Homo sapiens: one gene and its partners. The protein of the gene in region 1 purifies or fractionates together with the protein of each later gene. This does not show direct contact. Each region holds a gene or a part of one and is shown on either strand. Other genes may lie near its edges.

Region 1 (3,500 bases):
GGGCTCTAGTGATCTTCCTGCCTCAACCTCCCAAACAGCTGGGACTACAGGTGCACACCACCTAATATTTTTGTAGAGACAGGATCTTACTATGTTGCTCAGGCTGGTCTCAAACTCCTGGGCTCAAGTGCTCTGCCTGCCTCAGCCTCCCAAAGTGCTGGGATTACAGGCATGAGCCAACATGCCTGGCCTGGCCCCTTAGCTCTAGTTCGCCTTCTGCAAGGATCACATACAGCAAATATTATCCAAATGGCTGACCTGCACCACCCTTATGTCCCTTCTACTGCCAATAAACCAAGGAGTAATACTTCACCAAAAACTTGTCATTCCAGCAACCTCCTCCTTTCTCCCATCTATCACCCCTTCATCTCAAGCTACTTTAGCCATTCATTTCAACAAATGCCTTGGAAATCTAACTTATCTACAGATTGTTTTTCCTTAACCTTCATTGCCTGTCTCAAAACCATCCCATTTATATTAGCTTTTTCTCCACTGTTAATATTCTAGATCAAAATAATTCCATCTAAAAAAAAATTATGACTAAAGCAGATTCTAGATGTTCCCTCAGCACCCAAATGATCCACTTTTCTGGATGTATGTTGTTAAATACATCAAAGAAATCAGCTTAAGTGTCTAAAATTTCTGATGCCCCAACTTTTAACTCCTGGGCTCAAGTGATCCTTCTGCCTCAGCCTCCCAAGTAGCTGGGACTACAGACATGTGCCACCACGCAATTATTTTTATTTATTTTTATTTTTTGTAGAGACAGGGTCTCACCATGTTGCTCAGGCTGATCTTGAACTCCTGGCCTCAAGCAATCCTCCCACCCTGGCCTCCCAAAGAGCTGGGATTACACGCAGGAGCTACCATGCCCAGCAGAATTTATTTTCCTTAGTAATTAACAGGAATCTACTTTTCTTTTCTTTTCTTTTTTTTTCTGAGAGGAGTCTTGCTCTGTCGCCCAGGCTGGAGTGCAGTGGCGCGATCTCAGCTCATTGCAACCTCCGCCTCCCGGGTTCAAGCGATTCTCCTGCCTCAGCCTCCCAAGTAGCTGGGACTACATGTGCATACCACCACACCAAGGTAATTTTTATAATTTTAGTAGAGATGGGGGTTCCACCATATTGGTCAGGCTGGTCTTGAACTCCTGACCTCAGGTGATCCACCCACCTCAGACTCCCAAAGTGCTGGGATTACAGGCGTGAGCCACTGCACCCGCCTGAGATTTTTTTTTAATTCCAACTTTTCTTCAACATTCTTGCTAATAACTAATTTCCTCTTGTTCCATTTTATGAACTTTTAATCAAATACCAAACTAAAATCTACTTAAACATGTTGAGTTATCTACAGTTATTATGGAAAATTTCAGCCATAAGTGCACTTAAAGGAAATGAAATCTCTTAGCAGCTGATATAGTTTATGTGTCCCCTCTAAGTTTCATATTGAAATATAATCCCCAACTTTGGAGGTGGGGCCTGGTGGGAGGTGTTTGGATCATGGGGGTAGATCTCTCATGAATGACTTGGTTGCCATCCCCTTGATGATAAGTGAGTTATTGGTCTGAGTTCACACAAGATCTGGTTCTTTAAAAGTATGACACCTACCCCTCTTTATTCCTCCTGCTCCCACTATGCATAAGACACCTGTCCCCTCTTTGCCTTTCATCATGATTGGAAGCTTCCTGAGGCCACCCCAGAAGCAGATGCCATGCTTCCTGTACAGCCTACAGAACCATGAGCCAATTAAACCACTTTTCTTATAAATTACCCAGTCTCAGGTAATTATAGCAACACAAGAACGGCCTAATACAGCAGCTAACTGCAACTTAACTGTAGACTATATGTAAATAAGCCAATATTAAGCCATTTCTGGGGTCTGCCAGGTAATGAAAACAGAGAAGCTATCCTCTATTCCCACATTTTTCCTTTTAAAACATAACTTTTCTAATAGTCTTCTCCCCTATGGCTAGGACCTAATTATCCTTCCCTTTCCTTATTCCTTATTCTCTGTCTGCTGTAAGCACAGATTGACACATCAGTGTTGCGTCTCTCAACCCTATTAAATCATCATCTATGTACAAACAATTTTTTTCTTTTCTTCTTTAGACAGGGTCTTACTTGAACTCCTGATTCATCTGTTGCCCAGATGGAGTACAGTGGTGCAATCATGGCTCATTGCAGCCTTGAACTCCTGGGCTCAAGTGATCCTCCTGCCTCCACTTCTAGAGTAGTTAGGACTATATAGGCACCCATCACCACTCCTGGCTAGTTTTTTAAACTTTTTGTAGTGATGGGGTCTCACTCTGTTCCCTAGGCTGGGGTGCAGTGACACAATCATGGCTCAGTGCAGCCTTGAATTCCTGAGCTGAATGAAGCGATCCTCCTACCTCAGCCTCTTGAATGATGGGACCATTGGCATGTGCCACTATGCCCGGCTAATTTCTGTATTTTTTTGCAGAGACAGGGTTTTGCCATATTGCCCAGGCTGGTCTTGAACTCCTGGGCTCAAGTGATCCTCCCATCCTAGCCTCCCAAAGTGCTGGGATTACACGAATGAGCCACCAGGCCCATACCCTATTGATATATTTTTAAAAACTGCTTAACTAGGGCCGGGCATGATGGCTCACGCCTGTAATCCCAGCACTTTGGGAGGCTGAGGTAGATGGATCACGAGGTCAGGAGATCCAGACCATCCTGGCTAATATGGTGAAACCCGGTCTTTACTAATAATACAAAAAATTAGCCGGGTGTGGTGGCACATGCCTGTAGTCCCAGCTACTTGGGAGGCTGAGGCAGGAGAACTGCTTGAACCCAGGAGGCGGAGGTTGCAGTGAGCCGAGATCGTGCCACTGCACTCCATCCTGGCTGACAGAGCGAGACTCTGTCTCAAAAAAAAAAAAAAAAAAAAAAGCTTAACTAATCCTCTGCGTTAGAACATTTAGGTTGTTTCCAATTTTTCTGTAATAAATAGTACCAATATAAAATCTCTTTGGACAGGCCTGGCATGGTGGCTCATGCCTGTAATTCCAGCAGTTTGGTAGGCCAAGGCGGGCAGATTACTTGAGGTCAGGAGTTCACGACCAGCCTGGCCAACATGGTGAAACCCCATCTCTACTAAAAATACAAAAATTAGCCGGGCGTGGTGGTGCACACCTGTAGTCCCAGCAACTTGGGAGGCTGAGGCAGGAGAATCGCTTGAACTCGGGAGGTGAAGGTAGCAGTGAGCCTAAGATCATGCCACTGCACTCCAATCTGGGATACAGAGTGAGATTCTGTCTCAAAAAAACAAAACAAAGGCCAGGCGTGCTGGCTCACACCTGTAATCCCAGCACTTTGGGAGGCCAAAGCGGGCGGATCACCTGAGGTCAGGAGTTCGAGACCAGCCTGGCCAACATGGTGAAACCCCATCTCTACTAAAAATACAAAAAATTAGCTGGATGTGGTGGCGTGTGCCTGTAGTCCCAGCTACTTGGGAGGCTGAGGCAAAAGAATCGCTTGAAC
Region 2 (3,500 bases), on another chromosome or scaffold:
TAGAGTGGATCGCGTCATTCATCTGCAACAAACAGCCCAGAGAAATATATATTCACTTGTTAACTGAGTTCAGTTTTAGTAGCTATAGTATAAAAAAATTTTATTCTTCTAATAATTATTTTCAATACCTTTTTTACTTCTATTTCTTCCTTCAGCTCTGTGATTCTACTTGTATTCCGTGCAAATTTGTTTATCTTTTGTTGATCTTCGAAAGTAACATTGACATCTTCTGCAGCCTGAAAGAAGTGTTTAAGTTTTTGTAAAATTTTAACGGAGAAGTTATCAGTTAGCTTTTTATATTTCTCAACAATAACTCAATAAGCCATTTGCACTCATATAGTCAAGAATCACAAGAAGTACAGAACATAACAAATGCCTTATTTTTTGCTCCACAAGCTTAAGGTTTGTTTGTAAATCTATAACCTTTTCTGATACTCCATAAAATAATTCCTAAGCTATAAACATATTGCAAACATAAAGAACAATTAATAAGTCCTTTTAAAAGGAAAGAAAAAAAGCCAACTTTTGGCACAGAGCAGAATTTCTCAAGTTGGAGCATTCTTTCATTAAGATGACCCAGGAAACAAAAAGTTACATGGTCAAATATATTGGTAAATGTCTCAGAGTAGTGTTTTTTTTTTCTTAGAGCTAAAACTTGCATGAGCTTACTGGCTAAAGGGTCACTGTACATTTCAGTGGCTCTATTCCATTCACAGCAAAAATTATGTTTATAATGTAGGACCTGTTTAAATGTCTTAATAAGGTCTACTTTACTAAAAAATGATGAAAATTGAATGTTTAGTATTTAAAAATTAATATTTAATGTGATTAAATTTACAAATTTGCAAATAAAGAGTACTTGGATAACATAAAGTACCAATGAAATAATAAAAAAATAGCTAACACTGATTGAATTTACTATGTGCCAAAACTTCCTAAGTACTTTATTATCTCTGCTAATCCTGCAATCCATCTTATTAGGGAGGATCACCAGCACTATTTTACAGATTGAGAAACTGAGGTACACTTTATATAATATGGCCAAAGCCACAGAGCCAGTAGGTGGTGGAACTTGATTTCAACCCAGGCAGACTGGCTTCAGAGGTCAGACAGGTCCATGAGTTCTCGGTAACTGAATGTGAACGTGCGTCTCTGTGAGTGTGCACGTGTGTGTGTGAGTGTGTACACAGGCTTAGGCACATCTGGAAGAGGCAGCAGGATGTCTGCTTTCATCAGATTCTCAAGGAGGTACCATATATTTTTAAAAAATAAAGCTAAAACATAAAACCAGACTCTCCTTAGGGTTTCCCTTCCATTTATAAAATGAAAACCAGAGCACCTGATTCTAGTTTAAAGAAGAAAAGATATTTGTGTGTGTATAAAAATAGTTCATACTGAAACACTACTTTTGGCTCTTTTGCAGTAACAGTAATGAGCTCACAACATTCACACTCCATCCCTGACCTGGTCTCTCATGACCATCGACTTAAGGTATGTGAACTTTTATTTCTCAGAGGTTGAAAGGCAGTGTCAAGCAATACAGAGCTCAGTGGTCGGAATATAACACAGTCCTCCCCTTTGTTAGGCTCTCATTCCAAGAAACAATTTCACATGCATTATGCCCCACCTCAACAACCCAGAAGATAGCCTGAAAAAATCCTTTACATCACACTATGTCTAGCTTTGAGTGTTCAACCGTATGCATAATTTTGATGAATATGGAAGTTGGGGAACACTGAGCTACGCTCAAGAAACCAAAGTCTATATCTTGGCACACAAGTCATTTTGCCTAAGTGAGAACTGTCAATTCCCTACGCAAATAGACAGCAGAGAATTCTGAAGAGTTCCTGTTTGCCTGAAGAGTATATGCCATTTTGTTTAAATATTGAACCCCCAACAGGCATTTATAGATGTATTTGTCTTGGTGAGGGCTCAACAGAGCCATTCACATGAACGGATCCAGTGCAGGACTGCCTGGCACATAACTAAGGCTAATACATGGTTTCTGAATTTGAATCTAAATCATGCTTGATCAGACTCAAACACATAGTTTCCAAAATGTGGTAGAGAGAATTTGGCTATCTGCTTTCTGTCTTTCCAAAGCAGGAATTTCCTGTTGTAGCCCCACCAAACCACAGGCATCAGCACACATGTGGCCCCTGGTATCCAGATCTTTACAGTGGTTTTCCCACTGGGGTTAAGGGCTAAAGTTGATGTGTGAGTCAAATATACTGCATGCCGCCCAGTGGAGTGCCATTTACAGCAGACAGTAAGATGTCAGTGCCTTTGATGGCTAACAGAGGCTTCTGTTTTAGTCTCACTGTCCTAGAACATTCCTACATTTCTTGAAGCTGCATTTTGGCAAGAAGTGGGTAATTTTTTTTTTTTTTTGGTGAGACAGAGTCTCACTCTGTCGCCCAGGCTGAAGTGCAGTAGCATGATCTTGGCTCACTGCAACCTCCACTTCCCGGGTTCAAGCCATTCTCCTGCCTCAGCCTCCCAAGTAGCTGAGATTACATGCACATGCCACCATGTCCGGCTAATTTTCGTATTTTTAGTAGAGAAGGGGTTTCACCATGTTGGCCAGGCTGGTCTTGAACTCCTAACCTCAGGTGATCCACCAGCCTCGGCCTCCCAAAGTGCTGGGATTACAGGCTTGAGCCACCACGCCCAGCCAGAAGTGGGTAATTCTTAACTGGGGGGTGGGGGTGGTCAATGGACATTGACAGGTCGATATACCCAGAGACTGTATGCAAAATGGCATGTATAGTATGTGCATCCTTCTGGAAGGTCTTCATAGCTTTCACCAGATTCTCAAAGGGATCCACAACCCCAAAAGGTTAGGAACTCCTGCCTTCAGGGAAACCAGCTGTAGCTACTCTCAAAGTCAGAAGAACTCTAGGAAGAACTCATATCCTATAGTATCTGAGGCAGCACACAGAGTGGTGGGAAGAGTCAGGCTGCAATCCAATCCAAGCAAACAGGAACCTTGGGCAAATTACCCAATTCTTTGGAACCACCTCAGGTTTCTCATCTGTAAAATGGAGAGGCTAGTTCCTACCTTATAGGGTTGATAAAATGAACATGTAGGAGAAAGCCTGATGATGGAGTCAGTCAAATGATAGCTAAGCATTTTACATCCTGAATATTGTTTATCAAAAATCATTACAAAGAACAGATCCAGATCTAGAAAGAAATTCTGCTAGGCCAAAGAGAAATATGCCTGCTCGGGATCCAAAGTAAAAATTAAAATTCCCTGGGCTCTTTTCTTGAGAACTAATATCTTACGGGATTAGAGGAGGAAACTGAACCATACTCAGTCATGCCTCACACCAAGTCTAGGTATTACACGGAGTCTGCACTGACAGCTGGGTCCCTAGAAATAAATTCTGGCCAATTTCAGTCTTTTATTTTTACTTTTAAAAACATATCTACCAAGTCTGTATGATGTAAACTTTTGCTTTGTATTTGTATTCAACCTTCTTTGTTTGTTTTTTTGT
Region 3 (3,500 bases), on another chromosome or scaffold:
TTCCTCATTTCTTAAATGACAAGAATAATCCAACCTCATAGGGTTGAATGAAGAAGTTAAAGCCTTACACATATAGTGTCTCCATTAAAATGACAAATGGTGGCTAGCATTAACCACTACCACAGTTGATTGTTATTAGTCATTTTTTCTGCCTTTCCCGGCAGACTGAGCTCTCTGAGGGCAGACTCTGTCTCCCATTAATCTGAATCCTCGGTACCTAATATGCATATTCATGAAGTGTTTGCTCACGGAATTAAATTTATCTTCACAATGAAAGAGGTTAAAACAGTTTCAAAAATAAAAACAAGTCTATTTCTTTCAAGAGCAAATATAAAGAGATTCTTAAAAACTCTTTTTAGTAACCTGCATATATACCTGCATAGCCTTCCCCCATCAGAAGAAATATAGACACATCGATCTGTAAGATTTGTTGAGATGGAAACAAATTCATTGATATATCCTGCTCTTCTCATGAGTCGAAATGTATTCACTAGCTTTTTGTGGTCTCGAATGACACCTAAGATGTTACCTAGGCAAAAAGAAAGAACAGGTAAGACAGAAATAAAAAATAAATGCAACCTGATTTAATATATCCAACCAATAAAAATAGTAATCAGCACTAAGCAGTTATTTGAAAATACCATTATTAACACCTGCAGCCAGTCCACAAGGTTGCAGGGAAGCAACAAAGGAAGAATGCTTAAGGGCCAGTCCTTCCACATGCAGGCTGAGGAATACTGGAAAAGTCAGCTTCATTTTCCTCATCTTTCAGCACAGTGCTGGGGCATGAACTTGGGGTCCAAACAACCTGGGTTTGAACACTGGCTCCATCACTTCCACAGGCTGGCAGTAAAGGTTAAACGAGCTGATCATTTAAAGTACTGAGAATTCTGCCTAGCACCTACTAACTGCTATTATTAAACTGCTTCTTGTTGTAATCAACATTTGTGAAATGAGGAAAATGAACTTTGCTTCCCAAGGTTAGCGGGAGGATTCAAAGAGGCACTGGGTGAAAGTGCAGAGTAAAAGCTCACTCAATGTTAGCCTCTGGGATACAATGAACTAGGCAGTCAGTTAACAGCCCTGCTGAGGCTCTGACCCCTTCCTCACCAGCAGATATAAAAAAGAGTTAATGCCTCCTAGAATGAGAGGAAGGGGGAGAGGAAGAGAGAACAGACAAGTGATAAGGGATAAGCTCATGGAGCATACTAGGGAGAGAACAGGCACACAGCACCAAATCAAAAGCAGAAAGGAAGAGAGCACACTTGCTGCTAAGTCTCTGGAAGACTTCGAAGGAGACGGGAAGAGGTATATGAAAGAAATAACTGGAGTGTGAGCCAAAGGAGAGGGATCCTCTTATCACAGGCTGCTGACATATTGATTATCAGATGGCTAGACAAAGTCAATTCATTATAAGAGTTGATCTGATAATTTTTGCAGAATGACTCCAATATTTGACTTGTACTTAAAGATACCATGTTGAACCGTATTCCACTAAGGATATGCCAGCAACTGCAAAAGGGGAGAAAGCAGCCACTTTCTGCAAAGTTACCCTTTAGCTCTGATAGCTATATCCTCTCAGAACCTTGGATAACCCAGCCAACAAAGTAACTGTTTCTGTTATCATTGTATTTTCTACCTTTAAGTGAAGGTCAACCTGGGCCCAGAATTAAAGTCTATCTGTGCTTTAAATACCAGGATAATAATGGATTCCCTCCCCCTCTTCACAGACTATCTAGGACCAACATGTCTCTATAATATACCCACCATTAAGAAAGACAAGAAACACATTTGGGTAAGAGAGCTCTTCCCCACATAATAAATTCACATCTTCTACTCCCAAGTTACTGGCTAATTTAACAATGGGTCCATCTTCCATATCAGTTGTGATGTGTGTCATAAGGGCCAAGTTTTTAACCAAACCACATGCCTAAAAAACAAAAGATGGTCATTTCTAAGAATGAACATTAGTAATACAAAGTACAGTTTACATCTGAAAATAGCTCACTACTTTGCTGGCAGCAATGCAAAGCAGTACAACTTTGTAGGGGATACTGTGGTGATTCGCACAAATGCCTTTAAAAAATATATATATCCCTTAACTCAGGGGAATTTCTCTTCATAACAAGCAAGGATATAAAATAGATTTAGATACAGAAATGCTCAGCACAGTACTATTTGTAATTGTAAATGCTGACGACATCATAAATGCCCAACAAAACTGATTACATTAACAATTACTCCCAGACATTGGAACATTACAGTCATTATGATGACATTGTATAAAATAAGTAAAGGAAAACATTAATAAATGCAGCTACATAAAAATATAAAACTTCTGGCCTGAAATGAGAGACTGTATAAAATAACTGGCCAGTGCCCTTAAGTTTCTTGGTCACGAAAGGTAAATAAAGACAGACTGAAAAACTCTTTCAGATGAAAAGAGACAAGGAGACATGACAACTAAAAACAATGTGTGATTCTGGATCAGAAAAAAGACAACAGTGGGACAACTGGCAAAATTTGAATAAGATCCATAGATTATAGTATTGTTCAATGTCATGAGGCTGATAACAGTGCTATGGTTACATAAGATGTTCACAGTTGGGAATCTAGATGAAAGATTGTGGAAAATCTTTGTACCAGTTTCATCACTTTTTTGTATATCTAAAATTATTTCAAAATGAAAAGAAAAGAAATCTTTTTAAACATCTATGCAACCCGGTACAGTTCTAAAACAAAAATACCAACAAGGACAGAATATAGCAAATAGGAAAAAAATACTTAAGACAGGTGACTTGTAAGATTGTATCTTCAGGTCTTAGAACCATCTGCTGCAGTAATGTACAAAATAGCTACTTTTTTGAAGTTAGCTGAAGCAATCTCTGGGAAATGAAATGTTTCAAAGTTCAAGATATATAAATTATGCAAAATTTGACAAACTGGATAATTTTAGTGTCAATTTCCATATGGTTTAAGATAAATTAAATAGTTTCTAAAAATCGCAGCTCTATACAGACTCCTATTTTCATCTCTTCCAAATAATAAATTCCTACACTTTGGACCCTACATCTTTTACTTGTTGTAATTATTAATTCAGCATATATTCATGGGGCCTGTACTCTAACCAAGGCTCTATGTTAGGAGCTTGAGATACAATGGTGAACCTTCCTTCCTCCAGAATTTTACAATTTAGAAGGAATAGAATCAAGTGAAACTAACAATGTTAACACAAAGGAGAAAGGACCGTGACACAGGGAGTAGCGGGTGCTATAGAAGTAAACCCATGTAAACTCCCTGGCTTGATGTTTAGGCAATTGCTTGTGTTTCCAATATAAGTGAGTCAAAATCCACATTAGGTCATGGACTGTATACTCCTAATTGGCTGTGACTGAGCCTACCTAAGGACAATAAGGAGCTGCTCAAAAAGAGCCCCTCATGAGCATGAGAGGTGGTAGGTCTTTCAATCTGCCTTCACAGTCTTATCCCCTCTGTGCATG
Region 4 (3,500 bases), on another chromosome or scaffold:
TGTTAAAATTCAGAGAACTTTATATCCCAAATTTGCTATATGTTAATTAAAAAAAAAAGTAAAAATAAAGCCTTAAGAAATGAAGGGAGGCGGGGCACGGTGGCTCACGCCTGTAATCCCAGCACTTTGGGAGGCCAAGGGTGGCGGATTACCTGAGGGCAGGAGTTCCAGACCAGCCTGGCCAACATGGTGAAACCCTGTCTCTACTAAAAATATACAATTTAGCCATGCGTGGTGGTGGGCACCTGTAATCCCAGCTGCTTGGGAGGCTGAGGCAGGAGAATCGCTTGAACCTGGAAGGCAGAGGTTGCAGTGAGCCGAGGTCGTGACAGAGCAGGACTCCATCTCAAAAACATAAAAATAAAAATAAAAATAAAAAAAAGAAAGAAATGAAGGGGCCAGACAAAGCGGCTCATGCCTGTAATCTTAGCACTTTGGGAAGCCGTGGCAGGGGGATCGCTTGAGCTTAGGAGTTCAAGACCAGCTTGGGCAACGTGACAAAACCCCATCTTAAAAAAAAAAAATAGAAAAATTAGCTGGGCATGGTGGCACGCACTTGGGAGGCTGAGGTGGGAGGATCGCTTGAGCCCAGGAGATTGAGGCTGCAGTGAGCCGTGTTTGTGCCACTGCACTTCAGCCTAAGTGACAGAGAAAGACCCTATTTCAAAGGAAAAGAAAAAGAAGTGAAGGCCCTGTAGAGAGCGTCCTAGTGTCTAAGCTGACCTGGCCCCAAGCGCTGCTCGAGGGGTGCTTCTGTGACGGCGCAGCATGTGTGCCCAGGCCTGGTTCCTCACGGCCAGGCCCATCATCACTCACTGGCTTTTTCCTTCCTCGTGTTAGATTGGAGCTGGAGGGAGCATCACTGGGCTGAAGTTTAACCCTCTCAATACCAACCAGTTTTACGCCTCCTCAATGGAGGGAACAACTAGGCTGCAAGACTTTAAAGGCAACATTCTACGAGTTTTTGCCAGCTCAGACACCATCAAGTGAGTAGTTTAACTAGCAGGGGAAAGGGCTTCTAAGCTTAGGTGTAGTTCCGGCAAGAGCATCCAGATCCCATTTCCTTAACCCAACCTGGCCCAGGGAAGAAAGGAAAGATGTCAGCCACTTTCCGCCCTTCTTTCTCTTTCTCAAACTGCTCCTTGGCTGCCCTCACTTTGGTCCAGGTGGGTTACTGCTTTGGGAAGGTGTTCTGGAGCCTCAGCTCTTCTGTAAGTCATACCTGTATTAGACTGGACCTTGACCCTCACTAGATAAGCCAGCATGGCGTGGACCCAGAAAGCCACCTAGAGAATGGAGCAACAGCTCAGAACTTGAGACTGAATGCCCTGCACTCACTGTGGTGTAATGACCTGACCTGTTCCTGGGTGGAAGCTTATATGGATGGAATCTTTTCCATAAAGTGCTCTGGACTTCCCAAGAGAAAGTGGCTGGAGAAATTACAGAATGCGGCCGGGTGCAGTGGCTCATGCTTGAAATCCCAGCACTTTGGGAGGCCAAGGTGGGTGGATCACCTGAGGTCAGGAGTTCGAGACCAGCCTGGCCAACATGGTGAAACCCCCATCTCTACTAACAATACAAAAAATTAGCTGGGCGTGGTGGTAGGCCCCTGTAATTCCCAGCTACTTGGGAGGCTGAAGCAAGAGAATCGCTTGAACCCAGGAGGCAGAGGTTGCAGTGAGCCGAGATGGCGCCATTGCACTCCATCCTGGGCAACAAGAGCGAAAATCTATCTCAAAAAAAAAAAAAAAAAATTACAGAATACTCGTCACTTTGATTTCCAGCTAGAGCCGTGACTCTGACTGCTCCCTGAGGAATTAAGTGAGGGTGCTGGGGTGTAACTAGCATTGGATTGGATCCTGGGCTGTCCCGCAGGGATGAGGAGTGCATGCGCACGCAAATCAGCAGGCAATTGGATAGACAAGGCTCCAGGCTACTCTTCCGCAAGAAATCTTCCTGCTTGAAGATATTCATAGGGGATGGCAAAAGGCAGTGTAGCATGGATTTGAGAGTTTGAGAGAAAAACTGTGAGCTGAGCTCTTCTGGCTGAATAGCAGGATCCCTGAAGCACCCTCCTAGTCAGCCTCCCAGTCCAGTGGTTTGAGGGACCAGAAGAGCTCCTGGTTGTGTTTTTTCCCCCAGTGTTCAGAAGGGGGCAGAAGTGCTTTTCTAGCCAGCTCTGAGGAACAGGGCCAGGCAATCCCTCTTTGGCTTGTGTCTCCTTTGGCCTAAAGGGTGAAGAGTGAAAGGAGAGAGCAGTAAAGGAGGCTTGCTCAGAACCCGGGGTGTGGGGGGCAGGCGTGCCTCAGGGCTTGCTTTATGGTATAAGCTTTGTCTGCTTCAGGGACTTTTAGGAGCTGGGGATCCTGGGCCCAGCCATAACCAGACAGATTTCTGAGCCCCATTATCCCATCCCCTCTGTCTGGACGGTAGAGCAGTCTGAATGTTCCTCACTAGGAATCCACGGCAAGACAGTTATTCATTCATTCAACAAATATTTATTGAATGCCCGCTGTGGGTTAGTCACCGGAGCGGCAACAGTGAGTAAATAGGACTATCTCTGTCCCCAAGAATCTTACAACACAGTCTCTCCCTCCAGCATCTGGTTTTGTAGCCTGGATGTGTCTGCTAGTAGCCGAATGGTGGTCACAGGAGACAACGTGGGGAACGTGATCCTGCTGAACATGGACGGCAAAGAGGTGCGTTCTCCGAGGTCCTGCCTTTCCCTCCCTCACCCCCACCTCGGTTCTGTGTCCCCACCTGAACCGAGCTCTTCTCTGCAGCTTTGGAATCTCAGAATGCACAAAAAGAAAGTGACGCATGTGGCCCTGAACCCATGCTGTGATTGGTTCCTGGCCACAGCCTCCGTAGATCAAACAGTGAAAATTTGGGACCTGCGCCAGGTTAGAGGGAAAGCCAGCTTCCTCTACTCGCTGCCGCACAGGCATCCTGTCAACGCAGGTGTGATATCCCAGACCTCATCTCTCCTGCAGACCCTGCCTGTCTGACCACTGCTGGGGTTTTCCCTCAGTGTGGAAGCCACTACGTCAAACCTTTACCCCTGATAGCGTCTGCCAAGCTGATGTCTGGGAACCTTTGTGGCTGTGGCTGTCCCCATCAGCTGCTGAGTTTCCAGAATTTTTTTGTTGTTGTTCACAGCCCAGATTCACCTCTTCCTTTCCGCTCCTGTCTAGAGAGGAGTGGGAGGGAGAGTACCCCTGCAGGAGAAGGCCTGCAAGGCCAGGACCACAGAGGGCTTGTGGTTCCTTCAGCTCAGGGGCTTTTCACTTTGCCAGCTTGTTTCAGTCCCGATGGAGCCCGGCTCCTGACCACGGACCAGAAGAGCGAGATCCGAGTTTACTCTGCTTCCCAGTGGGACTGCCCCCTGGGCCTGATCCCGCACCCTCACCGTCACTTCCAGCACCTCACACCCATCAAGGTGAGTGGCGGTGGGAAGGAGCTCGCAGAAGGAGGCTGTGATCATGAGGCCGGAGCAGGTC

The links.
Region 2: the proteins of PFDN2 (region 1) and PFDN4 purify together in Homo sapiens (affinity purification with mass spectrometry; 7 studies listed by BioGRID and IntAct, with this or other methods). This does not show direct contact.
Region 3: the proteins of PFDN2 (region 1) and POLR3B purify together in Homo sapiens (affinity purification with mass spectrometry; 3 studies listed by BioGRID and IntAct, with this or other methods). This does not show direct contact.
Region 4: the proteins of PFDN2 (region 1) and DDB2 purify together in Homo sapiens (co-immunoprecipitation; 3 studies listed by BioGRID and IntAct, with this or other methods). This does not show direct contact.

Annotation. Positions count from the first base shown.
Region 1 is NC_000001.11:161,104,538-161,108,037, forward strand, and holds part of PFDN2 (prefoldin subunit 2), read right to left. Parts: intron 1-3,500. UniProt on the Homo sapiens protein: Binds specifically to cytosolic chaperonin (c-CPN) and transfers target proteins to it. Binds to nascent polypeptide chain and promotes folding in an environment in which there are many competing pathways for nonnative proteins.
Region 2 is NC_000020.11:54,211,087-54,214,586, reverse strand, and holds part of PFDN4 (prefoldin subunit 4), read right to left. Parts: intron 237-3,500; coding exon 129-236; intron 1-128. UniProt on the Homo sapiens protein: Binds specifically to cytosolic chaperonin (c-CPN) and transfers target proteins to it. Binds to nascent polypeptide chain and promotes folding in an environment in which there are many competing pathways for nonnative proteins.
Region 3 is NC_000012.12:106,430,748-106,434,247, reverse strand, and holds part of POLR3B (DNA-directed RNA polymerase III subunit RPC2), read right to left. Parts: intron 1,931-3,500; coding exon 1,768-1,930; intron 530-1,767; coding exon 376-529; intron 1-375. UniProt on the Homo sapiens protein: Catalytic core component of RNA polymerase III (Pol III), a DNA-dependent RNA polymerase which synthesizes small non-coding RNAs using the four ribonucleoside triphosphates as substrates.
Region 4 is NC_000011.10:47,231,974-47,235,473, forward strand, and holds part of DDB2 (DNA damage-binding protein 2), read left to right. Parts: intron 1-840; coding exon 841-986; intron 987-2,599; coding exon 2,600-2,699; intron 2,700-2,783; coding exon 2,784-2,961; intron 2,962-3,296; coding exon 3,297-3,439; intron 3,440-3,500.